Regions from separate parts of the Homo sapiens genome. Here regions 2, 3 and 4 are each linked to region 1. Evidence: fine-mapped expression QTL. A gene starts in region 1. Each other region holds a variant in brackets. All regions are shown on one strand. Distances are from middle to middle.

What was found. PIP is the estimated chance that this variant, and not a neighbour inherited with it, causes the effect. A credible set is the group of variants that fine-mapping cannot tell apart.
Region 2: its variant is the best candidate, but not a certain one, in a credible set for the expression of LINC00930 in sun-exposed skin (GTEx, PIP 0.66).
Region 3: its variant is the best candidate, but not a certain one, in a credible set for the expression of LINC00930 in esophagus muscle (GTEx, PIP 0.73).
Region 4: its variant is the best candidate, but not a certain one, in a credible set for the expression of LINC00930 in whole blood (TOPMed, PIP 0.82).

The regions. Positions count from the first base shown.
Region 1 is chr15:92,568,094-92,576,041 of GRCh38, reverse strand. LINC00930 (long intergenic non-protein coding RNA 930) reads left to right here and starts at 3,779. Exons shown (of 4, transcript NR_021493.1): 1 at 3,779-4,856; 2 at 5,346-5,484; 3 at 5,769-5,839; 4 at 7,751-7,948.
Region 2 is chr15:93,008,558-93,016,505 of GRCh38, reverse strand. CHD2 (chromodomain helicase DNA binding protein 2) reads right to left here. Exons shown (of 39, transcript NM_001271.4): 35 at 7,183-7,361; 36 at 4,062-4,161; 37 at 1,597-1,810. Among named protein-coding and RNA genes, the nearest start is that of RGMA, 77 kb to the left of the region's middle. The variant C/T (reference allele first, on the strand shown) is at 3,294.
Region 3 is chr15:92,661,004-92,668,951 of GRCh38, reverse strand. No RefSeq gene overlaps it. Among named protein-coding and RNA genes, the nearest start is that of FAM174B, 9.2 kb to the right of the region's middle. RefSeq lists enhancers at 4,066-4,565, 5,053-5,102, 5,483-5,602. The variant A/C (reference allele first, on the strand shown) is at 3,575.
Region 4 is chr15:92,776,695-92,784,642 of GRCh38, reverse strand. LOC101926994 (a long non-coding RNA gene) reads left to right here. Exons shown (of 3, transcript XR_001751667.3): 3 at 4,417-4,577. Among named protein-coding and RNA genes, the nearest start is that of CHASERR, 100 kb to the left of the region's middle. The variant C/T (reference allele first, on the strand shown) is at 3,827.

The DNA of each region.
Region 1 (7,948 bases):
CTGTGAAAGATGACCACAAACTAGGTGGCTTAAAACAACAAAAATTTATTCTCTCACAGTTCTGGAGGCCATAAGTTTGAAATCAAGGTGCCAGCAGGGTTGGTTCCTTCTGGAGGAGCCTATGAAGGAGGCTTCCATTCTTTTCTTCTTTGCATGTCTTCTCTTCTTAGGAAGACACCAGCCACTGGATTCAGAGTCTACCCCAATCCGGTATGACCGCATGTTAAGTGGGAACATTAGCAGAGACTCCATTTCCAAATAAGGTTACATTCTGAGGTGCTGGGTGGACATGAATTATTTCGGGCAACCATTCAGCCCATTGCGGTCTCTCTGCCTTCGGACTCCTCTTTCTACCTGTCCATGCCATGGACCCTGTGGGAGTCATTTTTTTTAACCTTCCTGTAGTGGAACCACCCCACCCCTGCTTTCAAGCCCTTCAAGGACTCCCCACTGCCAACAGAATAAAGTCTTATCTCTTTAGCTCAACTTATGGAGACTCACCATAGTCTGGCCCCTATGATCTTTTCTACATTCCATTTCTCCATTTCTCCTACACACTCCCTACCATCCCTGGGAAAGGTCTTCTATGTTGTTGAACATGCTGTGGATGCTCTTTTCTCCTTCCTCCTTCTGTCTATTGCTGAGACGCTCTTTTTCTCGAACACCCGTGTCATATATCTTTCCTTGTTCATGAGGACGTTTCTAGCCAGCCCATGTCAAAGGGCTCACCTCTCTCCACAGACCAACCCTAGCCCACACGGTGCACCATTCCTCAGTCTGTAGTGTGGCTGTCCTCTACTGGTGACATTTCCATTTTCCATTTCCATTTTACCCAGGGGCAAGCCTGTGTGCTATACTTCTTTGGGTCCTTGGTTTTGACAATGGTGTTCGGAACAGGTGGCTTCATGGTCAATGATTTTGTATGCTGCTGCTGGTGTGAGCATGCTGAATTGCTCCATGCCTGCAGCTCCCTCTAAAACTGATGGAGAGCCCTGTGCTGAGATGAAATGGGGGGAAAGGAGAAATTTGTTGCCACTTTGAGAGTCAAAGGCAGTGGTCTTTCCAAGGAAGAGTGAACTAGCAGAATCACTGCAGGAGAAGCAAATTCTGGAGGCTGGATGCCAAGAGGTGCTGTAAGAAAAGTTGTAAAGATATATGTGGGGGAAACCACTGCTCCCATCCCCCTTGGGAGACAATTGGTAAACAATATAGTTGGCAAAGGATAGGGACTGGGAGGGAAGTAAAAGAGGAGACAGAGTACAATGAACAGAATAGATGCCAATGGCCTTATCAGCTTTAACAGATGATCTGAAAACTTTAAAGTAACAAGGAAGTTTTTATTCCCATAATTGTTAGTAGTGTCTTTTGCTAGCTCCTCCGATGTGACAGTGATTGACCATTGGCAGCTGGGTCTTCAAACTCTCTTCTAAAATGTTGCATCTCTATGGGGACACATGAGGAACTTAGTTCTTCTATCTGGAAGTAGGTGTCCTCTAAGAGTTCTTGTGTTGTGTACTCTGTATCCTTTTTTTTTTTTTTTGGACTATGTCTCAGTTGCATCAAAGCCCCATTAACATTGCCCTTTGGGATCAAAAAGTAGTCCACCCGAGAAGAAAGAGTAGAGTTTTAGAGAACTGGGGTGAGAATTCTGGGCAGATGGCCAAGGTGTGGGCTCCAGGCTGAGCTTGCTGACACATGACATTGTATGTTTCAGGTACTGGGACAAGTTTTCAATGTCAAAATCTTTGAAGCCACCAGGGCCTTTTTTGTTTTTGTTTTTTGGCTAGGTCTTGGCAGTACTCCTTCATATAGTAGTAGGTTCAGAAACTCAGGCTAAGGAAAGCATCCAGAAAACATTGTCTGCCTCTGCAACAGTTTGTGGATAGCTTGTAATTGTAGTTCTGATCTTGTCAATCTGTCTTATAACTCTAAATGTGTGGTCTCACCTGGCTAGATACAGAAAATACCTATCTTCTTATAGAAGCAGGCAATCCTCAACCCCATTAAAAAAGTATGGTTTCTTGGACATTCCATCTAATAGGAATGCCAGTTTGCCTCCTGATATGTTGCCAGTCTGGCCATTTCAGCAGTCACTATTCAGCACTAGAGGAGGACTTCAGTAAAAGTTCCTTTGTCAGTAAGTCTTCCACGCAACATATTTGTTTCCAGGTCCTAATGGCAATTCCTCAGGATCTGGAGAAAAAAAAAAAAAAAAAAAAAGAAAAGGATCAACTCTCACGTTTGAGTTTGTCCCATTCATCTACATAAAGACTATCTATCAGTTTGAAGTGTCTTTTTGAGAATCAGAAAGGGGAGAGGATATAGGGGGCAAAGGATGTATTCTTTGAGATCCTGCTCTTAAGCAGTGATTCTTCTCTAGCACTCCTTATTTCTAGAATTTTCTAGCCATCTCTAACAAAAGCAAAGTGCAAAGAGCATTTAATACAAACCAAAACATGAAATGATCTTTTGATAGTTCAGTGTTGTGGCTGTGACTTGGAATTTTTCACTACATTTAAAAAAAAAAAAGCCACATATGCCCGGGTAGTCTCTGCATCAAGTCTGATACCATTGCTCCGACGTTATGAGGCTGAAGCAGTTGTGGCTGATTGATGTCACTCTTCTAGCCATCTCCTATTTCCACAGAGAGAGGCCGGGTTAATCCAACTCCAGTCTAACTTCGGAGGCATCAAGGATTCTAGGCAGCATCTCCCGTGTTTCTTTTTCCAAGTGAATTCCTGGAGGAAAACAATGAGGTCCATGTGTCTTTGCATCCCCAGGGACCAGCTCAGTAATGGGCGTATAAGAACACGCTGAAAAAAATTGTTTTGTTTTTGAACGACAGCGATTTAAGAGTAGTAAGGTCCTCGTAAATATAGGACATTGTACTCGTGTTTTTCTTCCGAGCATACAAATATTTGCAATGAGGTTGCACCGCAGACTCCACAGCCATTGTGGCACCTGGGGCTCTGTGACTTGGGAGGCAGAGGAGATGGAATGCCGGTGAGAAGAAGGAGATTGTGGTGTGAATGTGAGGGATGAGGGTGAATTAGCTTCCTACGGCGGCTGTTACAAGTTTACCACAAGATAAATGAGTTAAAACAGTACAGATTTATTATCTCACAGTTCTGGAAGACAGAAGTTCAAACTACTGGCAAAGTTCAAAGTGTTGGCAAGGCTGTGCTCCTCAGGAGGCTCTAGAGGAGAACCTTTTTCTTGCCTTTTCCTGTTTCTAGGGGCCACCGGCATCCTTCGGCTCATGGCCTCTTCCTCCATCTTAAAAGCCAGCTTCTGCAAATTCGTCTCTAATTCTGACACTACTTCTCTTGCCTCCCTCTCTCACTTATAGGGGTCCCTGTGATGACAGTAAGCTCACCCTGATAATCGAGGCTAATCTCCCCATCTTAGGGTTAGCCTATTAGCAACCTAAATTCCACCGGCAACTTTAATTCCCCCCTTGCCATGCACCGTGACATATTCACAGGTTCTGGGGAGGAGGGCATGAGCATCTTTGTCGGGGCATTGTTCTGTCCATCACAGAGAAGCACTCAGAGATTCCGGACTCCAGTATCCTCATTGTACACTTGAGGAAGCTTGGGCTCAGAGGCTTTATGTTAATTCCAACAGTTTTTGCAACAGGAGGAGGAGAATATCTGTCCAGGAGCCCTAATCAAGACTCAGCAGGAAGCTGGTGGCTTCCTTTCCTTCCTTCTTTTGCTTCCTTCCTGTTCTTCCTGTGCTTCCTTTCAGTTCTTCCTTCTACATATGGGGCCCATCACATTCCCACTGACTCAGATGCTGAGGGGCCAGACTGAAGGGACAGTGGCCATTGCATCAAGTCAGAGAACGGATCTGACCCATCTAGTAGAAGCTTATTGTTTTGGCAGAAGCACAAGCTCTTAGAGGTGCAGCTGCAGGGTGTGACCTATTGGGGACATTGAGCTCAGTGACCATGGGCCCTGAGAGTCTGAAATCCTGGAATTTCTCCCAAAACGAAGTCCATGTAGGGAAGCCAAAGTGTGAGTCTTACCCGGCTGGTTTACAACTGACTGACATTTGCTGCCTGGGCAGCTGTTGTGGGTGCCTGGAAACCCTATTGGACTAGGACTGGCCCCGGCAAAAAACAAGTGTTATAGCTGCCCAGTGTCCTCTGAGTGGATGCTGGTGATTCTGGTATGGAGCCCAGATGTAAGGCAGCAGGTGGTCCAGAAGGCACCAGAAGAGGTCTCCTGTCAAAGTCAGGGCCAGAGAAGAAGGCACAGGGAACCTACTGCACGAGACTTTCACTTGCAACGAGCAACCCATGATGAGGAGGGAGGATTCCTGGGGGCATTGAGTCCCCCAGACACAAGGACCCAAGACCTTCTTGCTTGGAAAGTGAATTCCTCAGAATTCCGAGATGATGCCAGTCTTGGAGGAAGATGACATGAGGACCCAAAACCTTCTTGCTTGGAAAGTGAATTCCTGAGAATTCCGAGATGATGCCAGTCTTGGAGAAAGATGACATGAGGACCCAAAACCTTCTTGCTTGGAAAGTGAATTCCTCAAAACTCCACAAAGACTCCAGTCTTGGAGGAAGATGACATGAGGACCCAAAACCTTCTTGCTTGGAAAGTGAATTCCTCAGAACTCCACGAAGACTCCAGTCTTGGAGGAAGACGAGGTGTTGAGAGATAGCTGGGATCCCTGAGGAAGGCAGCCCCAGTCTCCGGTGGAGAATTAAGAGGGGCCCAAGCAGATGGTTGGTGGTGGAAACGTCACCTCAGTATAGTACTATGGAGTTTCCTTTCACCCCCAACAGCCGACGGTTTCCAGGGGCGAAGAGTGAAAATTGAAGCAAGGTGTCTACTGTCCAGGTGAGAGCCACATCCTATGGCTGAGGGCCTGGGGGCATTGGGGACCACCAAGAATGAATACTTTTCCAATTAAGTGAAGTCTTTTGCACAATATTCCTGACCAATAGCTAATGTTCTCTGAGAGAGTCAGAGCTTCAGCCCGTGAAAGGGCGAGGGAACTTGTAGGAAGATATATGTGAGTACAGATGTGAGGAGAACATGCTGAAGTAGCCCAGGGGCTCAGTTGAAGCTGAGGACTGGTGGTTCTGGTGGCTGTGCTGGGGGTGGGGGTGGCAGTGTGAGATGGAAGTGAGTGAGCAGGTTGGGTGGGAAAGAGGAAGAAACCTAGGCTGTTGTGTTTCCGGAGAGACCCCGTATCAAGGAAGAATGGGGGGATTTATCAGCCGGGGGGATATTTATTTTGTGGAAATGACCCCTAAGTGGGTAGGGCTAAAACCCTGCTGGCCCGGGGGAGAAGAGAAGCCTAATGCACTTTGTCTAAACCCACAGCGGTAGACAAGGAGGCAGTGCGCCTGCCACCCCCAAGGAAGAGTCAGTTCAGAAGCACAGCAGCTGCTGGAAACCCAGGAGGTTTCCAGTTCGTTCCTGCTGGGACCTGGCAAGAACTGCACTGTCAAGGCTGCAAGAGGTGAGCCCCCTAGGGCACAGCGGAAAGGGCATCATGAAAAGGGGAGCCTGCTGGCTGTTGAATGGCTGGATAAGATGTTGTTCTGCGGCCACGTGGGGCTCTAATGCCTCTTAATTCTCTCAGAGGCTGGGCAGCAGCTGCCATGCATTTTGTTGGGACCTGGGCTCTTCTGCTAGGAGTTCCTGGGGGCAGGAAGGCTGCAAGTTGAGGTTTTCTTTTAGGAATTCATTGTTCATTTGGAAAATGTAAAACGACTCACCATGGCTCTTTCTTCTTCTCTTGAGGCTCCTGACGGCTTCTGACATGTACAGAATGGAATAAGAGAACCTAGCAGAAATGGAAGCAGAGGCAAGAGGTAAGGCTTTTGGCCTGAAAGAAGAATGGGGAAGCAGCCTCTAAGACCTTCTTCCTGGTAAATAAGAAGGGAAGTGCTCTGGGGAGCCCATCCTAGAAGCTTATGATTCCTGGGGAGTCTGGGGAAGAAGAGGCCCCTGAGTGACTGATGAGCTCATCTGTACTAGGCCAGGTTTGTGCTTCTTAGAGAGACCCTGGCGACCTCTCTGTGTTATTGTGAGAGGAATGAAGACTAGACCACGAAAATAGAAAGTACTTCAGGCTCTGGAGCAAGGAGAGTCCCTAAAAATACATAGTCAGTCCAGCATTTCTGGGAGCTGGAGAGGACCTGGCTGAAAAATCCCAGCAGTCAGCACTGCATTATCAAGTTACTTCTGGTTTACCGGAAACCAAGAACTTAAGACAAAATTGAATCCATTTGTCTTAGTCAACTGAAGCTGCTACAACAAATACCATAGATCAGGTAGCTTAAAATCAACAGAAATTTCTTTCTCCTAGTTCTAGAGGCTGTGAGTCTGAGATCAGGGTGCCTGCATGATCGGGTTCTGGTGAGGGCTCTCACAGTTTGCAGACTGCTAACTTCTTGTATCCTCACATAATGGGGAAAGGGTGAGGGAGCTCTCTGGGATCCCTTATAAAATGGCACTAATCCCATTCATGAGGGCTCTACCTTCGCGACCTAATCACCTCCCAAAGGCCCCACATCCTAATACCATAACATTAGAGACTAAGCTTCAGTGTATGAATTCTGGGAAGGCACAAACATTCAGTCCATAGCACAGTTTCTAGGTTTCTGTCCTAAACCACCAGTTAGGTTTCTGATTTTAATCCAGTTAGCACAGGCTTTTGATAATGACTGCTAGGTAATGTGTTTGTGTTTGAAAATGTGGTGTGACATCTTTTTTTTTTTTTTTCTGGAGACAAGGTCTGGCTCTGTCGCCCAGGCTGGAGTGCAGTGGTGTGATCATAACTCACTGCAGCCTCAAACTCCTGGGCTCAAGTGATTCTCCTGCTTCAGCCTCCCGAGTAGCTAGGCATGGGCCTCTATGCTTGGCTAATTAAAAAAAAAAAAGTAAAGAGATGGTTTCACTACGTTGCCAGAGCTGGTCTCAAACTCCTGGGCTTAAGGGCTCCTCCCGCCTTGGGCTCCCAAAGTGCTGGGACTACAGGCGCGAGCCACCATGCCTGGCCCATCATTATTTTAAAGTTATATGATATATCGAATTGACTATTACTCTAGAAGAATTTGAATATGATTTGTTAAGGTCTATAATGTAGCCTGTTACTACCTTAAACCTATGGACTCACTTAGGAAGTGAAGTCGTCATTGTTGGACCTATTCTTTTGATTAACAGAGGTATGTGTGAAGGGCAGGAGATGTCAATGTTTAAGGGCGTAGACCATGGAGGCCTGCTTCTGGGGTGAGGGGGTCTCTATTTTGCCTCTTAAGTGTGACTTGGGCAAGCTCCTTAGCTCTTCTGTCCCTTACTTCCCTCATATGCAAAATGGGGATAGAAATACTGTCTTCCTCATCAGGTTATTGTGAAGATTGAATGAGTTAATAGATGTACAATATACTGAACAGTGGTTGGCCTCAAATATTAGCTATTTTTATCTCTTACTTCACTTCTTAAAAATGTATTACATCAATGTGGATTTTGCAATTATTTTTTGAAGAAAAATTTAGTTATTTTCTCGTTCTGATAGCATGCCTAGGAAACAAGATGGTTTCTGTTTTGGGACAGACGATTCTGGAAAGATGTTAGAAATATAGTACATTGAAACAAAATCTTCCAGTATCATTAACCTACACCTAGTGTTAAGCCCTGTCTTTTTTACAATGTTGTGGTCTCAGTAAATGTTTGATAAATAACTTCAGTACATTCACCAAGTTATTTTTGGTTGTTTCTAGGTCTGGAGGCCAGGAAAATGTCAATGGAAAGCAGCTAGCATGAAGACCCCACAGTGTTCCTCCCTCTAGTAGTCTGGTATTATTTGGAGCTGAGATGCTCCCAATATGGTTGGGACATTTGTCCCCTCCAAATCTCATGTGAGAATTTGATCCCCCATTTTGGGGATGGGGTCTAATGGGAGGAGTTTGGGTCATGAC
Region 2 (7,948 bases), 440 kb before region 1:
CAATCAGCCTAATTAACATATGCACTACCTCACTTATATAATACATTGTTATTAACTACAGTCACCATGCTGTACAACAGATTTCTCAACTTATTCCTCATATCTAACTGAAATTTTATCTCCGTTGTTAATATCTTCCCAATTCTCCCCTGCCCTCCGACCCTGGTAACTACTGTTCTACTCCCTGCTTCTATGAGTTTGACTTTTTCAGATTCCATACGTAAGTGAGAATATGCAGTTTTTCTCTTTCTGTGCCTCACTTATTTCACTTAACATAAATGCCCTCCAGATTCAACCATGTTGTTGCGAACGACAGGATTTCCTTCTTTTTAAAGCTGAATACTATTCGATTGTGTATATACACATTTTCTTTATCCACTCACCTGCTGATGGGCACTTAGGATGATTACGTATCTTGGCTATCGTAAATAATGCTGCAATGAATATGTAAGTGCAGGCATTTCTTCAACATAACTGATTTCATTTTCGTTGAATATATACCTGGTAAAGGGACTGCTGCATCATATGGTAGTTCTGTTTGTGATTTTTTTGAGGCATCTCTGCATTGTTTTCCATAATGGCTGCACTAACTTACATTCCCAGCAACAATGCGCTGGGTTCCCTTTCCTCCACATCCTTGGCAACCCTTATCTTTTGACTTTTTGGTACTAGCCATCCTAACAAGTGTGAAGTGATATCTCATCGTGCTTTTAATTTGCATTTCCCTGATGATCAGTCATGCTGAGCATTTTTTCATATACCTGTTGGCAATCTGTATGTCTTCTTTTGAGAAATGTCTATTCAGGTCCTTTACCCACTTTTTAATCGAGCATTTGCCTTCCTGCTACATAAGGAGCTGAGTTCCTTACACAGTTTGGATATTATCCCCTTATCAGATGTACGGTTGGTAATATTTTCTCCCCTTACATAAACTGTCTCTTCACTCTGTTGATTGCCCATTTTTCTATTCAGTTATTGTTTTGTTCTCAATTTACAAGAGCTCTTTCAAGATTAGCAGTTTTAACCATTTCACTGTCATACAGAATGTAAACTTCTCCCTCAGTCTTTTTCGTTTGTTCATGTTAGCTGGGTTCTTCTTAATCGGAAGTTGAAATAATAGTCCTGGGGGCCAGACGCAGTGGTTCACACCTGTAATCCCAACATTTTGGGAGGCTGAGGTGGGCAGATCACATGGCGCCGGGAGTTTGAGACCAGCCTGGCCAACATGGCAAAACCCTGTCTCTACTAAAAATTTAAAAATTAGCTCAGCGTGGTGGTGCACATCTGTAATCCCAGCTACTCGGGAGGCTGAGGGACGAGAATCGCCTGAACCCAGGAGGTGGAGGTTGCAGTGAGCCGAGATTGTGCCACTGCACTCCAGCCTGGGTGACAGAGCAAGACTCAGTCTCAAACAAACAAAAAAAAAAATTGGGGGATCTTTATTTCATGCTTTCTCTCATTAAGAAAAGAGAGGACAATAAAGTGTTAGAAGATAATAAAGCACAGAAGTCTAGCCAGTGTCTTTGGAAAATGAAACGGCTGTGTGAATTTTTTATCTTTTGGCACCTCTTTTAAAAACTCCACTTAATGACCTACCTGCATTACTGAAGTGTCTCTTGTTGGGGTGATTGTAGTTATCTCTTGGGTGTCCATGCATCTGTGGGCCATGGGAGGCAGGCAAATGAGGCTTCTGAGGGTGAAGGTTGTGTGAGGTATGGGACTGAGATATCAGAGAGTCCCGGCTGGAGCCTGAGGCCTCTGGACGAAATGGTTTCTTACCCCCAGTCACGTCGTCTTTCTTCTTTTGCTCCTAAAGAGTAAAAGGAAACCAAAGAAGCTCAAGATCCCAGGCTTAATTCCCCAGAGAAGAATAAAGGCTATCACCTCTAAACAGCTCCTTCTTGTCCTTCTTAAACTTCTGAACTGGCGTTTACTACCTCCTAACAAAAAAAAGGCTCATAAATTCCACTGTTAGGCTATTTGCTGGGGGAACTCAGTGGAATTTATGCTGAGTTTGACCATTACTGCTAAGTACCTGCAAGAACACATGCATAGACTGCTAGATGTCACTGTACAGGGTATGGTGTAGGCGCCCAGGCTGGCGGCACTCTCAGAGGATCATCCTGGACCATGTAAAACCAAGACTACCAACTTTCCAAGGCTAACCACAACAAACAACCCTCGACTGTCCAGTGGGAACTAACTCCTATGCCCAAGTCATCAAGCTAAATATCTGAATGTTGGAGTAACATTACTCCTTATCACACAAGTCAAATGTTTGATATAAAAAAAATCACACAATAAAAAAAATAAAGTGACCCAAATCCTAACCAGCAAGGGAATTACTGTTAATAATTTGGCACGTATTTTTCTAAGCTTTTTTTTGTAGTTATATTTTAAACAAAAATATTTGGTATTCATTTTTCACTTCATGTATTGTGAAAATCTTTCCATGTAAATACTTATTTCTACAATATTATGTTTAATAACTGATTAATACTCCCCAATATGGATATATCATGAACTACTGAATGTTTTTGTTTTCTGTATTTTTTTTTTTTTTTTTTTTTTTTTTTTGAGACAGAGTCTCACTCTGTCGCAGGCATTCAGTGATGCCATCTCAGCTCACTGCTACCTCCACCTCCTGGTCTCATGCGATCCTCCCACTTCAGCCTCCTGAGGGGCTGGGGCTACAGGCATGTGCCACCACACCCAGCTAATATTTGTAGTTTATGTAGAGATGAGGCTTCATCACGTTGGCCAGGCTGGTCTCGAACTCTCGGCCTCAAGTGATCCACCCGCCTCAGCCTCCCAAAGTGCTGGGATTACAGGCACGAGCCACCGCGCCTAGCCACATTGAATGTATTTCTTACTGTTGGGCTTCCAAGCCATTTCCATTATAAACATGTTTAAATCTCTATCTCCTTCTCAAAACTAAATTCCTGGAAGCAAAACTGCATGCTTTAGTCTTTTAATAAATCTTGCTGAATTCTCCTCCAGAAAGGTTGTGACAATGTATACTCCCACTAGTAGGATACCACTGTTTTTGTTATTCAGCTTATACTGTTTTGTTATTCATTCTGATCCCTAAATGAATGAAGTCTTTCATGATTATGTGTCCAACTTCAGACCCTCTTCCTAATTTTCACTCCCTTCTAAAGGGCCTTTCCTAACTATTTCATTCCCTCCTGGGGCCTTTCCGGACTATCCATTTATAGACTTTTTATAATGCTTATTAGTATATGATTCCTGTATGTTACTGCTATAACATATTCTTCCATGTAAAATTAAAT[C/T]ATCAACTACTTGAGGGTGCTGCTTCACAGGCCAACACAGCACTGGGCACAGCATAACAAATACTCCTGAGTGCTTCCCTGTCCCCAGCACCATTCTATTCCATTCTATGTGCTGAGAACACAGCAGTAGATGAGAGACATAAAATCTCTGTCTTCATGGAGCTGACGCATTAGTGGAGGTGGTATTTAATGCTCACAGATTGAACTCAATGTCCAACTTGGGTACAGCCCATGTGGCAAGTCAGCAGATCTGCAAATGGGCACACCCACACAAGGAGCACTGCCTCTGCAGCCTCCTCCATGTCACTTCTGCACCCATCCCCCTATTCCAAAGGAGAGGCAACTTCTGAGCACCTCTCACAAGTGAGTAGCAGGACCCCTTCCATACAAAAGCTGGAAGGACACCAAATAGATGGTCCAGAAAAGAAGAGAAAAAGTATTTTCTGCCCACCACCCTATTACTTCCTAGGAGCCACATTTATAAGCTACTGACATGTACAGAAGAAAAATGCAAATGGAAGAAAAAACCTGGTGAACAAATGATTTTAGGACCTAAAAACACAGGGTAAACACTCTTTGTCAGAATTTCAACCATGTTAGGCTCCAATACATTGGCTATTTCACCCATCTGGTCTTATTGTTTGACTATTAGCACCAGCAATAACCCATGATTCTGTGATCATCTCCCCATGGAAAAACAAAAATTAAGAGATTTTTCTGTGGAATTGGTATTTGTTTGTATGAATTAGGACTGAATTTGTACTTTACCTCTTCTTCTTGAGACCTTTTCTTATGAGCCATCTTGTATAACTTATGCAGTTTTCGAGCATCAAATTCTGTAAACTTGGAAACAAAAATCCATAGGTTCCTAAAAAGAAAAATGAACAGTTCTGGTGAATTATAGAATTAGAAAAGCAATTTTTTATGATCTTCATGGATGGCAAGCTATTAAATTTTGCTGTGGTATACTCCCTAAGCATAGAAATTAAGCTACAGAAATATTATTTCAGGTATTTGCATTAATAATACAGTAAGTCCTAACTTAATGTTGTCGATAGGTTCTTGGAAATTGCAACTTTAAGGGAAACAAAATCAATTTTTTTTCTCATCAATGTTATAATGAAACAAAGCTGAAGGAAACAACGTTATGTGAGGACTTACCGTACACCTTTACATGGTTCTGCCAAAAGAGTCTGACAGAGGGATTTAGAGACTAAGGCTCTATCAATACCTAGAACTCCTCCAAATTTCTATCAATGACACCCCAGACTCCAGTCCTTTTAAGTTTTCCTTCACTTTCTGGACTCTACCACAAATCCATCAGCACCACCATCTCCCAGGTTGTGGCCTCCATTCAGTTGGTCATCTCTGTGTTGCTGCCCCTCCTTCCTCCCAGTTGTCGCCACCACAACCTTTCATTTCTTCCTTAAAACTCTCAGTGGCTTTTTCCCTCCAATTCCATTATGTTCACCCTAGCATGGTGTTACTGCGCAACAGGGGAATGATATGATGAGACAGGTGTTTAGAAAGAGTAAGCACAGGTAGTCAGAGTGAGCCAGATAAAGGAGTCTCATATCTTCTCAAACTTCCTAACAGGTAGTTTCACCATGGCTTGCTGCTGACAGGACCACCTGTACAGGCTCCCTAACTAGTAAGCCTGCTGCATCAGGTGAAGAGCCATTTACCTTCCTGTCTAAAGCCTCCTATAAAGAGCTTCAGTCTTTTTAGCAAACTGTCTTTAAATCCTGAACACCACCCAGTCCCCTCCCTGTCCCACTTTCAAGCCTTTGCTGAAGCCTGAGAACTCTGTTCATCTCAGCAATTCGACTCAGCTCATGTATGCTCAGTTCAAGTGCACCTGCCTGCCTCTCAGAAGACCTTCCTTCCTGACTACTCTTCACGCACTTCCTTCTCAACACTTCCACTCTATCTGGGCTTGCATTTGCTGCCTCATGACGAACAGTTTCTCCGAGGGCTTACCTTGTACTACTTTTTTGACTTGTAAAGGGCGAGGACCTTATAAACTACTGCTAGCCAAGATCACAGTGCCTGGCACATTTAAAAATGGGTCTGTTCACTGGGATGACCTTTTGCTATCTTCTAATCAGTGTTAAATTTAAAAAGAAGAAAAAAAAAAAAGGCCAGATGCCGCTAGGTAAAGAAAGAAGTTGGTAACAGTGTTAAGCGGAAAAAAAAGTACCATTTTGAAAATTAAATCTTTTCTTTATAGGTGTGAAGCATGCTGTGGACACCATCATGCAGAAGTTTTCTTAAATCCACTTTTCACTCAAAAACCAGTCCTCTGAGATTGGACATATTATACAAAGATAATCACATTATCCATGAACTATATACAAGTTCAAAGTAACTGTGGTTATGTACAAACAAGCACATGTACCCTCTGAGTCTAAAATAAAATAAAAACGAAGTAACTGTGATTAATGGAAAGAGATTTAATGTTACAATTGCCTTTTAGAATTTCCAGCCATGGCTGGGCGCAGTGGCTCATGCCTGTAATCCCAGCATTTCGGGAGGTCAAGGCGGGCGGATCACCTAAGGTCAGGAGCTCGAGACCAGCCTGGTCAACATGATGAAACCCCATCTCTACTAAAAATACAAAAATTAGCCAGGCGTGATGGCAGGCACCTGTAATCCCAGCTACTTAGGAGGCTGAAGCAGGAGAATCTCTTGAACCAGGGAGGTGGAGGTTGCAGTGCCAAGATTGTGCCACTGCACTTCAGCCTGGGCGATAGAGTGAAAGAGTCAGACTCTGTCTCATTTAAAAAAAAAAAAAAAAAAAAATTTCCAGTCATGTTTTCTTAAAATATCCAAAGTGGACAGTGGATATATATCCAGCAATCCCACTACTGGGTATCCACCCAGGGGAAAAGAAGTCATTATATGAAAAAGGCACTTGCACTTACATGTTTATAGCAGCATAATCTGCAATTGCAAAAACATGGAACCAGCCTAAATGCCCATCAACCAACAAGTATATAAAGAAAATGTGGTACATACATACCATGGAATACTACTCAGCCATAAAAAGGAATAAAATAATGGCATTTGCAGCAACCTCAATGGAATTGGAGACCATTATTCTAAGTGAAATAACTCAGGAATGGAAAACCAAACATTGGATGCAAAGGCATAAAAATGATATAACGGACTCTGGGGGGAAGGGGGCTGAGGGATAGAAGATGACACACTGGGTGCAGTGTGCACTGCTCGGGTGATGGGTGCACCAAAATCTCGGAAATCACCACTAAAGAGCTTATCCATGTCACCAAACACCACCTGTTTCCCTAAAACTATTGAAATCTTTTAAAAAAGTTTCAGTGGCTATATAAAGGAACATTTATAAACCATGATGCCTTAAACACTGAAGTTCTAGATTAACTTAATCCAAATTACTACTTTAATTACTAAAAAAGCATATGAGAATAGAGAACTCATAGTTCTTGCGGTTTTAATCTTTGTGTCACCATGTGTTGGTACAGAACCAACCAATTAGTTGTATTAGATACAGTAATATCTGAATATCTGGATATCAACCTGAGATGGGTAAAGTAGTTAAGACCAGATGATTTTTGCCCCTTGTAGGCTTAAAGAAAATTTATTTCTGAGAATAGACCAGCAAATCCAGTAACACTATCTTTCTCTCATAAAATAAATTAATGACATCGTCCTACCCCTTCAAAAGGCTGGTCTCAGTGGAATGGCCTATTTCATGGAAAGGGAGTTAAAGCCTGCAGGTATATTGCCAATAGATGAGTTGTGCTGGGAGAAAGATTTCTTAGGTGGCTATGCCACCTTTTATTAAAAGAAAACAGAATCCACTCCCACACTCAGTCAAATCAAACTGGGCAGACGAGGCCAAAGTGGTTACCTCCTCCAGAGTTTGATGTGCTCCTGATCTGAGTAGGCTTTAAGGCACTCGGCTATCCGGTCTCCGATTTTCAGCAGGCAGTTCCGGGTGTGTTCCAGCTGTTCTTGCACGTTGAGCCCCTTGTCAGGTTTGTCGAGCTGTTTCAGTGCCTTTTTCACGGGCCTCATCCTCTCCTTACACTGCAACAGGACAACAGAGTAAAGACATAAACAATCTGCAGAAAGTAAGTCTTGTCCTTTGCTTACTGTGCTCTCGATGAAAACACAGCCCACCCCTATGCCATATAATTGCTAGAGGAAGAGTGGGTAAAGCTAGTGCAGTGGAGTAAGTGTAAGTATTCAAGTCAGAAAACCCTGAAGTGCAGTGCCAGCACCATCGCTTAGAGTTATGTGATAACCCTTCACGCCTTACTTAACCTCTCTAAATACTGCTTCCTCATCTGCAAGAGAGGCATGGCATGCCTCACAAGCCCATTTTGAAGATCTAATGAGCAGCAGTATTACAGACCTAATCTGAAATTCTCCCACCAGAAACTGTCTAAAAATACGGGATATAATATTTGCAAATCCTTCAGGCTTGAAAGAAAGCAAGAGAAAGGCTTCCAGATAAGATGGTAAACAGAACACAAGCATCTTTTCTCTGCCTCCCCAATCCCACTAAAACAATGGTAAAGGGACTGTCCTTAAAAGAGACAAGCCCACAAAGACAAGAGAAAACAAGAGAGAGGATAATGGCAACAAAATATTGGCAGCACGGGAAATGACAA
Region 3 (7,948 bases), 93 kb before region 1:
ATACGTACCAGTTATTATGCTAAGTTCTCTACATGTGCTATCTCATTTAATCCTAATGATAAGTGAGCTGCTATCTTTATGCCCATATTACAGGTGAGGAAATTGAGACTTAAGGTTTAATTTAGTGCAAGTTACACTGAGAGTAAATGGCAAAGCCAAGATTCCAGCTCTTGCCTTCTGACTTTAAATACGTGCACTCAACTCCTGTTGCTTGCTATAAACTACGGCAGTAGGTACTTATCCATTCAGTCCAGCAACATTTATTGAGCACTTACTGTGTGCCAGATACATTTCTGGTTGATGAAGAAATAGCCAATGAACAAAACAGACACAACTCCTGATTTGATGGACATTACGTGTGTGTGTGTGTGTGTGTGTGTTTTGAGAGACGTATAAACAAACAAGTTACACTAACTTACTCGTGGTTGGATTTGGACTGTTTCTGGAGAGAAGAGGAAGGACTTAGTAATGGGGGGATTGTAGGGGGACCCCTAGGTTCCTGCCTCCGCCAAGTGCAGTGTGGTGGCCAGCAGAGCGTAGGAGCTCTGGAGGTAGGGCAGGTTTTGGGGAACGATGAAGAATCTTGTGTGGGACATGCTGGGTACCTGAGAACCCAGGGAGAGGGGCCAGAGTGAGAAAAGAACTCAGCAGGAAGCCCTGGGGACTGAGTTAAAAGGGAGAGGAGCCAGCTCCCGAGAGAGGGGACAGAGAGGTCAGAGGGAAGATAGAAAACTGGAGACCTCCAAGGCAGGAAGCCCTGGCATCATCAAATGCCACTTAGAGGTTCAGGGAGGGCAAAAGGGAGACACACAAAGTTGTAGGCTCTCCCCTCCCGCTCCCCCTCCCTCCCTCCCATTCCCCCTCCCGTTCCCCCTCCCTCCCTCCCTCCCTCCCTCCCTTCCTTCCTTCCTTCCTTCCTTCCCCTCTCCTCTTCCCCTCTCTCTCTCTTTCTCTCTCCCTCTCTCCCTCTTGGTTTCTCTTTTCTTTTCTTTCTCAGTGAGAAACCAGAATGGGAAATATCTACTGGAGGGTGAAGATACAGGAGGAAGCAGAGGTAATGCGTGAAGCAGAGCCTCAGAGGAGGTGGAGGAGGGTTGAACTCAGGGCCAACGTGTGGGGGCTGGTCTCAAACAGGAGGGTGTATCCCTGAGGCTGGAGAGGAGTGAGAAAAAAATGGTCAGGAACGCAGAGCAGCGCCTCTCGGGAAGTGGCTGCCAACGTTACTTGTGAGGTGGAAATGTCCAAAGTGGGTCTAGGATGCATCAACACAGGGGTGAAGGTTTGGGCTCCACACTGTGGGGAACAGGAGAAACAGCCATCCACCCGGGGCCATCCCCAAACTGACCTTTTCTGTGTCCCTAACCCTCAGAGGCCCGAGCTCTGCCTGGGAATTAAAACACAAATTCCTGCAAACGTGAGGTCTAACTCCACTGTCACGGAGAGGCTGACGATGCCAGCTGTGGGAATTGCAGTGGGGACAGGTATGGAGAGGATGTTTCTGGACATGGGAGTGACTGCCACTTGGAGCTGCAGGCAGAAGCAACAGCTGGTGTGTTTTCCTGAGCAGGTTGGGGGATGGCTCAAAATCAATATTTACTTTACAAACAGCCATCCGGAGGGTGAACCGCCCTGCCTCTCACCCTCAGCTTTTCTGGGGAAAGATGTCTGTGGCCTGCTTAGCTCTGCCCTGCTGGTCTTCGCCTCTCGATCCAAAGCAACTTTGATGTGTATGGGAAAAGTACTGCACTGTGAAAGGAACTGTGGACAGATGGTCCACCTGAGCTCAAAGGTGGGGTCCCTCCACGTATGCACCTCAGGACTTTCCATCCTGTGGGAATCTCCTAAAAAGTTGCTCCATGGGTGGCACTCTCTGAGCAGCACGATTGGTGGGGAGGGCTCTGTCAGCAATATTATGTCGTCACTGACGTCTGCAGGCTCTCCTAGGGGACACTTCAGAAACTTTCATAGAAATATTTCTCTTTGGCAACAGCTCGCTGTTTCCATGGTTTGACGATACTAGCCAGCTGTAAAGTAGGCCAGCACGGGAGAGGGCGGCCCTGGGGACACGGGCTGCATGGCACGCTCATTTCCAACCCTGGGGCAAGTCAGATAACCTCATTAGGTCTCCATTTCCTAATCTTCAAAATGGAACAACAGTGTGAGCCTCAGTGGCCTGGTGTTGTGAGAATGAGGATTAAAGAACTGCAAATTTTTGAGTTTTTTTGGTGAATAATTGTGAAGTCTTTTGGAGGACATATTTCAGAAACAAATGAAATAATAAAGCAGACCTTAAATGTATTGATATAAATTTTGCATAGGTCCAGTAACCTTTTCTTTGCTACGCTTAGTGATCTACTGATTTAAAAAGAGTCCTCTCATATGATACTGACAGAACATTTTTAACCTATTTTTTTTTAACCAGCAATAAGTTTACATAGTTCAACATTCCAAATGCATGAAGGGATACAGTTACTATTCCCTTTCCTGCCCCTGTTCCAGCCATCCAGAGTTCCCCTGCCTAGGTAGGGTGACCAACTGGTCCTGCTTTGTCTAGGACTTTCTGTTTTAGCTCTGAAATGTCCTCATCCCAGGAGACTCCTGAAACCCCAGCAGACTGGGATGGTTGGTCACCCTCTGCCATAGGCAACCAACATTATGAGTCTGTCATGTGTCCTTCTGAAGATATTTTGACAACAGCAATGTTAGTATTAAAAAAAATCCTTTTAGGTAAAGAAATAAAATGTCTTTCTCATAAAACACTAATGCATGAGGCTGGGCATGGTGGCTCATGCCTGTAATCCTAGCACTTCAGGAGGCTGAGGCGAGTGGATCACCTGAGGTCAGGAGTTTGAGACTAGCCTGGCCAACATGGTGAAACCCCGTCTTTACTAAAAATACAACAATTAGTCGGGCGTGGTTGCGGGTGCCTGTAGTCCCAGCTACTTGGGAGGCTGAGGCAGGAGAATCGCTTGAACCCGGGAGGCGGAGGCTGCAGTGAGCCGAGATCACACCACTGCACTCCAGCCTGGGTGACAGAGCAAGACTCCGTCCCAAATACAAACAAACAAACAAAAAACCAAACTAATGCATGACATCAAGGGGATAAGGGAGCCCACAATAACATGGAGGCCCAAATCTTATCATCAAACATAATTGTTTTTCCCATAATTGTTCTTACGATTGTAATTTCCAGCTCCAGAATTGCTATCCTTCTGCAAAGGAAAACTCCCTCTCAGTCTTGGGAAAAAGACTCCTGTAAACGTTAACAATCTGTGGCCCCATTTCTCATAGCCGTGGTTGACCGTAGACTCCATTATCAATTTGTTTATAATTTATTTTTGTGGAGTTAAAAAAAGCATTTGTGTACTTGGGATTTGGATTTCATAAGTATGCTTATTTGGCAAGTTATCTTTTAGATTTCCCTGTGCAAATGTAACTGATTTGGGAAAGCCCCATTTCAGAGAAAGCATAACACAGCCCTTATCACGTGTGAACTGAGAAAGACATCGGAAAGCCTTTTCCAGGCTAAAAATAGACCTAGAACGAGGTGTATTTTAGCTTCGGGACTTTCGCA[A/C]ACTTTCTGGCAAACTAGCACTTTATTGTTTATGTATAAGGGGCTGACGTTCCTTTTAAATGTTCTAGCTTCAGGCTATCTTACTTTTGTGCAAAAAAGGATGAATTATTTATAAAAAGAGGCAAAAATATCACATGATAACACCCTCGTTTCTGGCGGGGAGTAAAATGAGCTGCAGCTGGTGCTGTGTCAGCTCCACAGGCGAGGTGCAGAGAGCAAGCGGAGGATGGGCTTGATCCTCTGATCCCTTGAGAGGGCCTGATGTCTGAGATGCAGCCTGTCCCCCTCCAGGATGGAGGGAGAGACCTTTAATTCTCATTCTCTCTCTCACTCATCACTCATTTTCTCTCTCTCTCTTTTTCTGTCTCCCTCTCTCTGGCAAACTTGGGAAGGCAAAGTATGGAGACCTTTTATAAGCTCAAGTGTGCGCAGAAGCTGGTTTTATGGAATTATTTGTATACACTAATTCTGCCAGCCTCAGTTTCTTCATCTGTGACAGGAGGTGATAACCGTATTTTCTCCTTAGGCCTGATGTAAAGCGCCTGACGCTAAGTAAATGCTCAATAAATATTAGCTAGTATTCAAGCTTGCCTGGCTGCTCAGAGACACAGAGGGGCGGGGTGAGCGAGTGGGCTGAGGAAGGACTGGAGAATATAAAGGCAAGGGGCTGCATTACCTGAGGGTAGAGAGGTCAGCTGAGCTGACCGGCTCTTCCTGGTTTGTCTGGGACTAACCTGCTTTTAAAAACACAGTCCTGCATCCTTGGAAATCTCTCAGACCCAGGCAAAACCAGAGGGTTGGCCGCTGTCCTGAGTTAGGTTAGGATGAATTGTCCCTCGTTTATTTTTCCTCGGTCTCAACTGAATGCTGTGTTACTGTACCAGGGTTCCATCATGTGTGTGCACAGGCAGGGACAAGAGAGCCACCTGACACACCCTGTGTCGCTCTGCCTGACTCTGGCCACCCCACCTGTCTGTGTTGTGACACAGTATTGTAACAAAACTGCCAGGCCCAGGGTTCCCCTGCCTACTCTGCCTTCCACCCAGTGGGGTTGTGCGGAGCCTCCCAGCAGGCCCAGGAAAGGTGGGAGGAAATTGTGCAAAGACTTAAGACAAACGAGGGAAATCCAATTCCTTTTATTATGTGGATGATAACAACTGTGTGTAAAGGAGTCTGTCTGAGAAGTGGATTTGATCATGACATTTACTAGTATTTGGGGCCTGCGTTTTACACGAGTGCTTGCGGCCTGCACGCAGGAGGTTTCACTGGGGTTGCAGAGGGTTCTCCCACTACTCAGCTCTACTTTTCCAAACGTACTCTCTGATATTCCCAGCACCGTGGAGCGAGACGGGGTATTTCTAATGGAGCAATGCCTCACTGTCTTTGGAGACAACCCCAGTCTCGCTTAGGAGTTGGAAAGACTGAGCTCGGGGTCTGTGCCCTGGTGCTGGTCTGGCCCCAGACACTGTAGGACCCCGCAGGTCTTCATTTCCTTGCATGTCAACCGGGGAGGCTATGATGGGGTACAGAGGGTTGCTGTGAGGACTAATGAGACACATGTGAGGTGAGTGTGGCACACAGTGGGCATGCAGCCAACATGAGTTCTTGCATCTGAACGTCTCTAGCAATGATTGTGGAATATACTCAGGACGGATCCTCTACTCCTTCTCATCCTTTTCTCTTGGGTCTGGAAATTTTATTTACTAGTGATTAGCTCAACAGTCAACATGTCTTGTCTGCAAATCAGAATGGCTGTGCTTAAGGCTAAAGGCCACATGCAATATATTTATTCCTTTCCCGAAAGTGTCCAGCCCGTAACAGGGGCACAAAACGTATCTGTTGCTGTGGGAAGAAACCTTCCAGATGACGAGTGCTAGTGACGTCTAGGAAGAAATGAAAGATGGGCTGGAACACTCCGTGGGGTTGCTCGCTGGGTTTCTGGCTGAGTCGTCTTGGACTTCCCCTCCACTCCTTTGCTGTGGGTCCCCCTCAGGTAGATGTGTAGTCAGCAGCTTCTCCAAATTGGAACAGAAATAACTCTCCAAGGGCTGAAGGGGATTTCCTTACCAGGCCAGACCTTTCTTCCACTGCCCATGCACATGTGCCTCTCTCAGGTCCCTAAATTGACAAGCCTCTGTTTCCCCCTCTGTAAAATAGAGATGCTAATGCCTATTTCCCATAGGGTTGAAAGGTATGTGTGATTATGCCTGCAAAGCTCAATGCATGGTGGACGTTGTTATCTGGAATTTCCTTACCCCTCTTCAGTCTACCCTTAAAAATTATTTTCCCTACACTGTGTCAGCAGTATGGGGTGCAGCGGGAACTGAGAGTCTGCCTCTCACATTCTCCTTACGCATGCTCCAGAGTTTGATCTCTGGTCATCTTTGTAAGCCCTTTGCCTGAGGGTATGTTAAAAACAAAGGTGAGTCATGTCATATTCATTTTAGGAAATAAAATAGTTAAGATTAATATATGTACTGCATGTAAGAAAACTGCCAAATTAGTACATATTTATTACAGAGCCTAGAGTCTGTTGCAGTAAAGTCTGATGCAGTAAAGACAACACAAATGCCCCATGATCACACATCTAGCGATAATTGCTATTAACATGTTGTTATATTTCCGGGGCTGGGCACTGTGGCTCATGCCTGTAATCCCAGCACTTTGGGAGGCCTAAGTGGGCGGATCACTTGAGCCTAGAAATTCAAGACCAGCCTGGCCAACATGGTGAAAGCCCGTCTGTACTAAAAATACAAAAAATTAGCCAAGTGTGGTGGTGCGTGCCTGTAATCTCAGCTACCTGGGAGGCTGAGGCACGAGGATGGCTTGAACCTGGGAGGTGGAGGTAGCAATGAGCCACAATCGGCCACTGCACTCCAGCCTGGGCGACAGTGAGAGACTCCATCTCAAACCAAACCAAACCAAACCGAACCATGTTGGTATATTTTCTTCCAATATATTTTCTTGTGTCCTTCTGTTTTAAGTCAGCTGCTAGTCACAGAGAATGGAGAATGTCTGTCTTCCAAACAGTTAGGTTACTTCACTGAGACCTATTTCCTCTGGGCTACATATGTATAAAACAGCAAATAGGTGAGAGGTGTCCAAAGGGTGTTCCTGCTCTGAATTCCAAGGTGGTTTAGGCATTATTAACTCAGGGATCTGGTTTTGCTCCATAGCTGTTGTCTCCTGGAGGTGTCCCAGCCAGGGCATCAGAAACTCCCTCCCTCAGATATTGGTGAACCTTGAAGGCTGGAAAAGTGATTTATAGTTAAATGCCATTTCAGTGATCCTTCTTCATTGCTCTGATATTTTATTAATAATTAACATTTGCTGAGCACTTAACCATTGTTTAGATATTTTGCTAAGCATGTTCCAAGTATTAACTTATTTGGTCCTTGAAATACTCTCATGAGATAGGTTCTCTTATTAGCCCTATTTTACAGATGAGGAAACTGAGGCATAAGGTTTAAACAAGATCACACAGTTAGTGGTGTACTGGAATTAAATGACTTGTATTTATTGTGCATATATGAATGTATGTACAGTATATAGAAAATATGTATAAATTTCTCTCTTCTACCTATATGCCCATCTATCACCTCTCTATCGTTTATCTCTAACATCTATCTATCTATCTTTATATCTCTCTCATCAATATCTACCCACCTTGGCTGGGCATGGTGGCTCATCCCTGTAATCCCAGCACTTTGGGAGGCCAAGACAGGAGGATCACTTGAGTCCAGGAGTTCAAGACCAGCCTGGGCAACACAGCGAGACCCTGTCTTGTATTTATGTATTTATTTTTAAGAAACTATCTACTTCCTTTTTTGATCTAATTATTTCTGAAGAATTTTCCTCTGTGTTTGAAGTGGCCGTTTACTAGTTTTGGCTTTGGCTACCCGCATCCAGATGTCCTTATTGTGGTGGACTCCTCAGTGGTGTGATCCTTGGTGGAGGAGGACCCCTGCTCTTCCCGTTTGGAAGATGAAGAGGGTGGGATATGCCCTCTCCCCTTCTCGGACAGTGCCACGTGACTGGGGTAGCCAATCAGGTGCTGCGTTTTAGGACCTTTAATTTCAAGCCAGTGATGCAACTCACAGGAAGTTAAGGAGACACTCTTCCAGCCCCGGCGCCGTGGCTCACGCTTGTAATCCCAGCACTTTGGGAGGCCCAGGCGGGCAGATCACTTGAGGTCACGAGTTTGAGACCAGTCTGGCCAACATGGTGAAACCCTCTCTCTACCAAAAAATACAAAAAGTGGTGGCACGTGCCTGTAGTCCCAGCTACTCAGGAAGCTGATCTGAGGTGGGAGAATCGCTTGAACCTGGGAGGCAGAGGTTGCAGTGAGCCGAGATCCGAGATCACGCCACTGCA
Region 4 (7,948 bases), 210 kb before region 1:
TAACGATAGTACATTGGCCTAGGTGTACAAACCTTTAAGCTACCAATAAAGCTTTAATTAAAAAATATTGGCAGCTTGCTGGGTGCGGTGGCTCGCGCCTGTAATCCCAGCACTTTGGGACGCCGAGGCGGGCGGATCATGAGATCAAGAGATCGAGACGATCCTGGCCAACATGGTGAAACCCTGTCTCTACTAAAAATACAAAAATTAGTCGGGCGTCGTGGTGCAAGCCTGTAGTCCCAGCTACTCAGGAGGCTGAGGCAGGAGAATCACTTGAACCCAGGAGGTAGAGGCTGCAGTGAGCTGAGATCGCACCACTGCACTCCAGCCCGGGAGACAGAGCGAGACTCTGTCTCAAAAATATATATATATTTGCAGCCGAGTATAGTGGCTTACCCCTGTAATCCCAGCCTTCGGGAGGCAGAGGCAGGAGGATTGCTTGAGCCAGGAGTTGAGACCAATCTGGGAAACATAGTGAGACCCCGTCTCTACCAAAAAAAAAATAAACAAAAATTAGCTGGGTGCAGTGGTGTGTGCCTGTAGTCCCAGATACTTGGGAGGCTAAGGCAGTAGGATTAAGTGAGCCAGGGAGGTTGAGGCTGCAGTGAGCCATGATTGCACCCCTGTACTTCAGCCTGGGCAACAGAGCGAGACCCCCTTGCCCCCAAAATATGTATAATACACACATATAACATATATATGTATATATGTAACACACACATATAACATATATATGTATATATGTAACACACATATAACATATGTATATATGTAACACACACATATAACATATGTATATATGTAATACACACATGTAACATATATATGTCTGTATATATAGTTAAACAAAAATATTATATAAAATATATACACGCTAGATTTTCTCTTAAAAAAATTTTACATTTTTTTACACTGTTTTTTCTTTCGTTCTTTGTGGTTTGTGTGTGTGTGTGTGTGTGTGTATGCAGCAAAGCGAAACAGTGATATTGGGATTGCAGCAAATGAAAGTGAATCATTTATTGCAGGGCACCAAGCAAGGAGAATCAGGCAGCTCATGCTTAAGATCCAAACTTCCTGATGGCTTGTAAGCAAAGGTTTTTAAAAGCAGGGGAAAATTTCAGGAAAGGAGAAGTTACAGGCAAAATTGTAAATGAATACATGGAGATTATACATTGGTTTGGCCTTAGAAGATGGAATATCTCGAAGCAGGGTTAGAGGGTGGTGCTTAGAGGTCCTAGGTAGATTCAAAGATTTTCTGATTTGTAGTTGGTTGAGGAGGAGAAGCTTTCTTTAAAAAGCTGGGGTCAGCAGCAGAAGATGTGAGCACTGCCTTGTGGGTGTGACTTCCTCCAGGCCTCTCAGGAAGAACTTCAGGACAAAGAATGGTAGTCAAAGTGCAGTCCTCAGTTTGCCCCTTAGCTGAGGTCTACGTGCCAGCGGATCCATTTGGTGGGAGTTCTGAAAAACTCAGGGACATATGTTAAGTTGTTACGTAGGGAACCAACACCTTGTGACTCTAACTTCCTTGGCTATTGTTTGAAGCTACTGTTAACTTTCTTTTCTTTTCTTTTTTTTCTTTTTTTTTTTGAGACGGAGGAGTCTCGCTCTGTCGCCCAGGCTGGAGTGCAGTGGCGTGATCTCGGCTCACTGCAAGCTTTGCCTCCTGGGTTCACGCCATTCTCCTGCCTCAGCCTCCCAAGTAGCTGGGACTACAGGAGCCCGCCACCAGGCCCGGCTAATTTTTTGTATTTTTAGTAGAGATGGGGTTTCACCGTGTTAGCCAGGATGGTCTCAATCTCCTGACCTCGTGATCCGCCCGCCTCGACCTCCCAAAGTGCTGGGATTACAGGCGTGAGCCACCGCGCCCGGACATTTTTTTTTTTTTTTTTGAGAGGGAGTTTCACACTTCATGCCCAGGCTAGAGTGCAATGGTGCAATCTCGGCTCACCGCACTGTCCGCCTCCCGAGTTCAAGTGATTCTCCTTCCTCAGCCTCCTGAGTAGCTGGGATTACAGGTATGCGCCACCACACCTGGCTAATTTTTTGTATTTTTAGTAGAGACAGGGTTTCACCATTTTTGTCAGGCTGGTCTCGAACTCCTGACCTCAGGTGATCCACCTGCCTCGGCCTCCCAAAGTGCTGGTATTACAGGCGTGAGCCACCGCACCTGGCCTATATTTGCATTTCTAAGGGACTAAGTGGGAAGTGGGGAACCAGGGGAATGAGAAAAGAAGGGAGAGAAACAAACTATCTCTTAGAAAAATGAGGGGCACTTGGTTACAATTCCTCACTCAAATCAGAGGTTAAGAGTTCATATGTGTCACCAGGAGCTTGTCACCAACAAGCTGGGTTCTTGGCTGCCAGAACCAAGCCACTTCTACTGACTTTGGCTGATAGATGCAGAAGCACTTGTTCTTTTAACAAAGGCTTGTGGACGTAAGAAAGGCTCAGTGTCACTTTCCAGATAACCCAAAGAAATATTTATTCCTGGCTCTGAGCAGGTGGCAGAAGTGGAAGAAGCTGAGATGTGGCTGTGAGTCCTGACTTCACTGCTGTCCAGCGGAAAGAGTCTGAGCAGTCTAAACCCGAGGTTTCGCCAGTGTGAAATGGGGCTAATTATATAGACATATGGGTTTTACAAAGTTTTGACAAATCAGAACTTTTGTTTTATATGCTGGGTTGAAATCAAGGACCTGCTGGGTCTGTTCCTGCTACTTGTGGTTGGGTGGGGGAACAGAGGATAGAGAAGAAACTGTTCATCTCAGGTTGGAACGTGCCAGGTCTTCAGCCTTCCAGTGGCTTTTTAAAAAAACATTTTTATTTATTTATTTTTGAGACAGAGTATTGCTCTGTTGCCCAGGCTGGAGTGAAGTGGTGCAGTCTCGGCTCACTGCAGCCTCCGCCTCCCAGGTTCAAGAGATTCTCATTCCTCAACTTCCCGAGTAGCTTGGATTACAGGCATGTCCACCACAGCCAGCTAATTTTTTTTTTTTTTTTGAAATGGAGTCTCACTCTGTTGCCCAGGCTGGAGTGCAGTAGCGTGACCTCAGCTCACTGCAACCTCTGCCTCCTGGGTTCAAGGGATTCTCCTGCCTCAGCCTCCCCTGTAGCTAGGACTACAGGCGTGTGCCACCATGCCTGCTAATTTTTGTATTTTTAGTAGAGACAGGGTTTCACCATGTTGGTCAGGCTGGTCTCGAACTCCTGAGCTTAGGTGATCCGCCCACCTCGGCCTCCCAAAGTGCTGGGATTACAGGTGTGAGCCACTGTGCCTGGCCTTTTTTTGTGTTTTTAGTAGAGACGGAGTTTCGCCATGTTGGCCAGGCTGGTCTCGAACCCCCGACCTCAGGTGATCACTTCAGCCTCCCAAAGTGCTGGGATTACAAGCATGAGCCACCAAGCCTCGCATATCCAGTGGCTTTTGATGGCTGAAGTGCAAGTCACACCCCCTCTCTGAATTGCACCAGGCCTACAATTCACCAGATTTGCCAGGCTGGGTGGAAGGATATGTAAATCTGACTCAATTCACAGCCTCTCTTAACACTTCAATCAAAATTGCATCTAATTGAGGTTCATTCATAAACCTCATTGACGTAAACAACTGCAAACATGGAGGAGCCCTCCCCAAAGCTTGATAATTACTTCACGATGAAAACTCAGCTGTCAGAACATCATTGTTGCTATGACAACTATGAGAGAAGCTGGTTGCCCAGGGTTACCCATGTTACCAGATGTCACTGGTGCTTGAGTGTTAGCTTCAAATGAGCCTCAGGAGCATAATGAGAAAAGGCAATGAGAACTATATAAATGGGTCTGAATAAGAGAA[C/T]GTCTTTTTTTTTTTTTTTTTTAATCTTAAACCCCAATAGATTCAGGAAGTATCTATCTCATTACAGGACAATTGAGTTATATCTTGGAACCAGGGAGTCCTAAAATGACCTATCCTCTAAAAGGCCTTTCTTTCTCTTTTTAAAATTCTTTGTTAAATTTTTAATAAGTAATACACATATGTGCTTCAAGCTTTAAAAAATACAAAAGGCGGCCAGGTGTAGTGGCTCCCACCTGTAAACCCAGCACTTTGGGAGGCTGAGGCAGAAGGATCACTTGAGGCCAGGAGTTCAAGACCAGCCTGGGCAACCTAGTGAGACCCTGTCTCTTCAAAACTAAAAATAAAGAAATTACTCTCTGGTGCTTCAAGCAACATCTCTGGAGAGTCGTGTTGTGTGAATTGGTTTGTATACATTAGTATGTGTATGTATTCACACATTCATATACACTCAGGATACAGTTGGCCTAATTATCATTGGGGCCATAGGTAAAACTTATGAAGAATGTTCTCATGCTGAATTGTAATTTTCTTTTACCTGTAAAGTAAAATTTAGATCAATCCCATGTCTGTGTTTATTTTGAATATCATAGATATGCTGTACATTTAAAGAGGCAATGCTACTGGGATTATGTAGGTTCTAACTCATTTTAACAAGGGCACTGTCAGGCCTCTAAGCCCAAGCTAAGCCATCATAACCCCTGTGACCTGCATGTATACATCCAGATGACCTGAAGCAACTGAAGAACCACAAAAGAAGCAAAATAGGCAGTTCCTGCCTTAACTGATGACATTCCACCCTTGTGATTTGTTCCTGCTCCACCCTAACTGAACAACTGACCTCGTGACATTCCTTCTCCTGGACTGAGTCTCAGGAGCTCCCCACCAAGCACCTGGTGACCCCTGCCCCTGCCCACAAGAGAAAAACCCCCTTTAACTGTAATTTTCCACTACCTACCCAAATCCTATAAAACTGGCCCACCCCATCTCCCTTTGCTGACTCCTTTTTTGGACTCAGTCGGCCTGCACCCAGATGATTAAAAGGCTTTATTGCTCACACAAAGCCTGTTTGGTGGTCTCTTTACACGGACGTGCGTAACCAGTACCTGACCTGCGTAAGATAACTTGAGGCCAGGCGTGGTGGCTCATGCCTGTAATCCCAGCACTTTGGGAGGCTGAGGCGGGCAGATCACCTGAGGTTGGGAGTTTGAGACCAGCCCGACCAACATGGAGAAACCCCATCTCTACTAAAAATATAAAAAATTAGCCAAGCGTGGTGGTGCATGTCTGTAATCCCAGCTACTCGGGAGGCTGAGACAGGAGAATCACCTGAACCCAGGATGCGGAGGTTGTGGTGAGCCGAGATCACACAATTGCACTCCAGCATGGGCAACAGGAGTGAAACTCCATCTCAAAAAAAAAAAAAAAAAGACTTGAATATTGTATTTCTTAGGACTATACTAATATTCTTCTCACAAAAGGTCTATAAAATATTATTGCTGAAAAGTATTTTGTATCAAAATGTTTGCAGGCTGGGAGCGGTGGCTCACACCTGTAATCCCAGCACTTTGGGAGGCCAAGGCAGGCAGATCACTTGAAGTCGGGAGTTTGAGACCAGCCTGACCAACATGGAGAAACCTCATCTCTACCAAAAATACAAAATTAGCGGGGTGTGGTGGTGCATGCCTGTAATCTCAGCTACTCAGGAGGCTGAGGCAGGAGGATCACTTGAACTTGGGAAGCAGAGGTTGCAGTGAGCCGAGATCGTGCCATTGCACCATTGCACTCTAGCCTGGGCAACAAGAGAGAGACACCATCTAAAAAAAAAAAAAAAAAAAAGCTTCTCCCTAACCTGTATTGATATTCACTTGAATTATTATTTTCTAAAATTAAGAGCCCTATGACTACCTGTAAATCTTTTCACATATCATTTAAAAGTTTGTATTATTATTATTGATTTACAGCTTAATTATTATTTTTTCTTTACAGGGATGCCATTGATGTGCATGCTTTTATGTTTTTCAGAAAAGGGTATGTTTGGATGAAAGTAAAAAAAAATAAAGTAAAATCTTTCACTGTGAAAAAAAAAATTGCAAGGGTGTAGTGGCACATGTCTGTAGTGCCAGCACCTGGGGAGGCTGAGGTGGGAGGATCACTGGAGCCCAGCAGTTCGAGGCTGCAGTGAGCCATGATCATGCGACTGCACTCCAGCCTGGGTGACAGAGTGAGACTCTGTCTCAAAAAAAAAAAAAAGCCAAAGGTATATGGGGAAGTTCTTTTCTCCATCCTTACCCTACCGCACATATGCCCACTTCCTATCTTGCCCCAAAGGTATTTTTGTGCCTATACAAATCAATACAAAATATATTTTTCCTCTGCTTTTTGCGTAAAACAACATATACATGGAAGAATAATATATTATGACATTATATATAATAAAATATATTATGACATATATAATAAAATATGACATTATATATAATATCTTATGACATTATATATAATAAAATATATTGTGACATTATATATAATAAAATATATTGACATTATATATAATAAAATATATTATGACATTATATATAATAAAATATATTGTGACATTATATATAATAAAATATATTGTGACATTATATATAATAAAATATATTGTGACATTATATGTAATAAAATATATTGTGACATTATATGTAATAAAATATATTGTGACATTATATGTAATAAAATATATTGTGACATTATATGTAATAAAATATATTATGACATATATAATAAAATATATTATGACATTATATATAATAAAATATGTTATATGATGAAATATGATAAAATATATGATAAAATATACTATATGATAAAATATATGATAAAATATATATTATATATATTACATATAATATAACATAATATATTACATATAATATAATATAATATATTACATATAATATAATATATTACATATAATATATAATAATATATATCACATATAATATAATATATAATAATATAATATATCACATATAATATAATATATAATAATATAATATATCATATAATATAATATATAATAATATAATATATCACATATAATATAATATATAATAATATAATATATCACATATAATATATAATAATATAATATATCACATATAATATAATATATAATATAATATATCACATATAATATAATATATAATATAATATATTACATATAATATAATATATAATAATATATTATTATATTACATATAATAATATATTATTATTATATTTATTTATTTATTTATTTACTCTGTTGCTAGGCTGGACTGCAGTGGCATGATCTCAGCTCCTGGGGTCAAGCGATTCTTGTGCCTCAGCCTCCTGAGTAGCTGGGATTACCAGCATGCACCACCACACCAGGCTAATTTTTGTATTGTTAGTAGAGATAGGGTTTCACCATGTTGGTCGGGATAGTCTCGATCTCCTGACTTCGTGATCCGCCCGCCTTGGCCTCCCAAAGTGCTGGGACTGCAGGCGTGAGCCACTGTGCCCGGCCTATTTTTATTTTTATTTATTTACTTTTTTGAGACAGAGTCTTGCTCTGTTGCCCAGGCTGGAGTGCAGTGGTGTGATCTCCGCTCACGCAACCTCCACCTCCCAGGTTCAAGTGACTCTCCTGCCTCAGCCTCCTGAGTAGCTGGGACTACAGGCATGCGCCACCACATCCAGGTAATTTTTGTATTTTTAGTAGAGACGGGGTTTCACCGTGTTGGCCAAGCTGGTCTCAAACTCCTGGCCTCAGGTGATCTGCCCGCCTTGGCCTCCCAAAGTTCTGGGATTACAGGTGTGCGCCACCTCACTTGTCCAAAAGAATAATATATTATATACATTGTTCTGCACATTGCTTTTTTATCTTAATGTATTTTGAAATGATCTTATATCAATCCATAGCTTCCTCAATATATATATATATATATTTTGAGATGGAGCCTTGCTGTGTCTCCCAGCCTGGAGTGCAGTGGTGCAACCTCAGCTCACTGTAACCTCTGCCTCCCAGGTTCAAGTGATTCTCCTGCCTCAGCCTCCCAAGTAGCTGGGACTACAGGCATGTGCCACCATGCCTGGCTAATTTTTGCATTTTTAGTA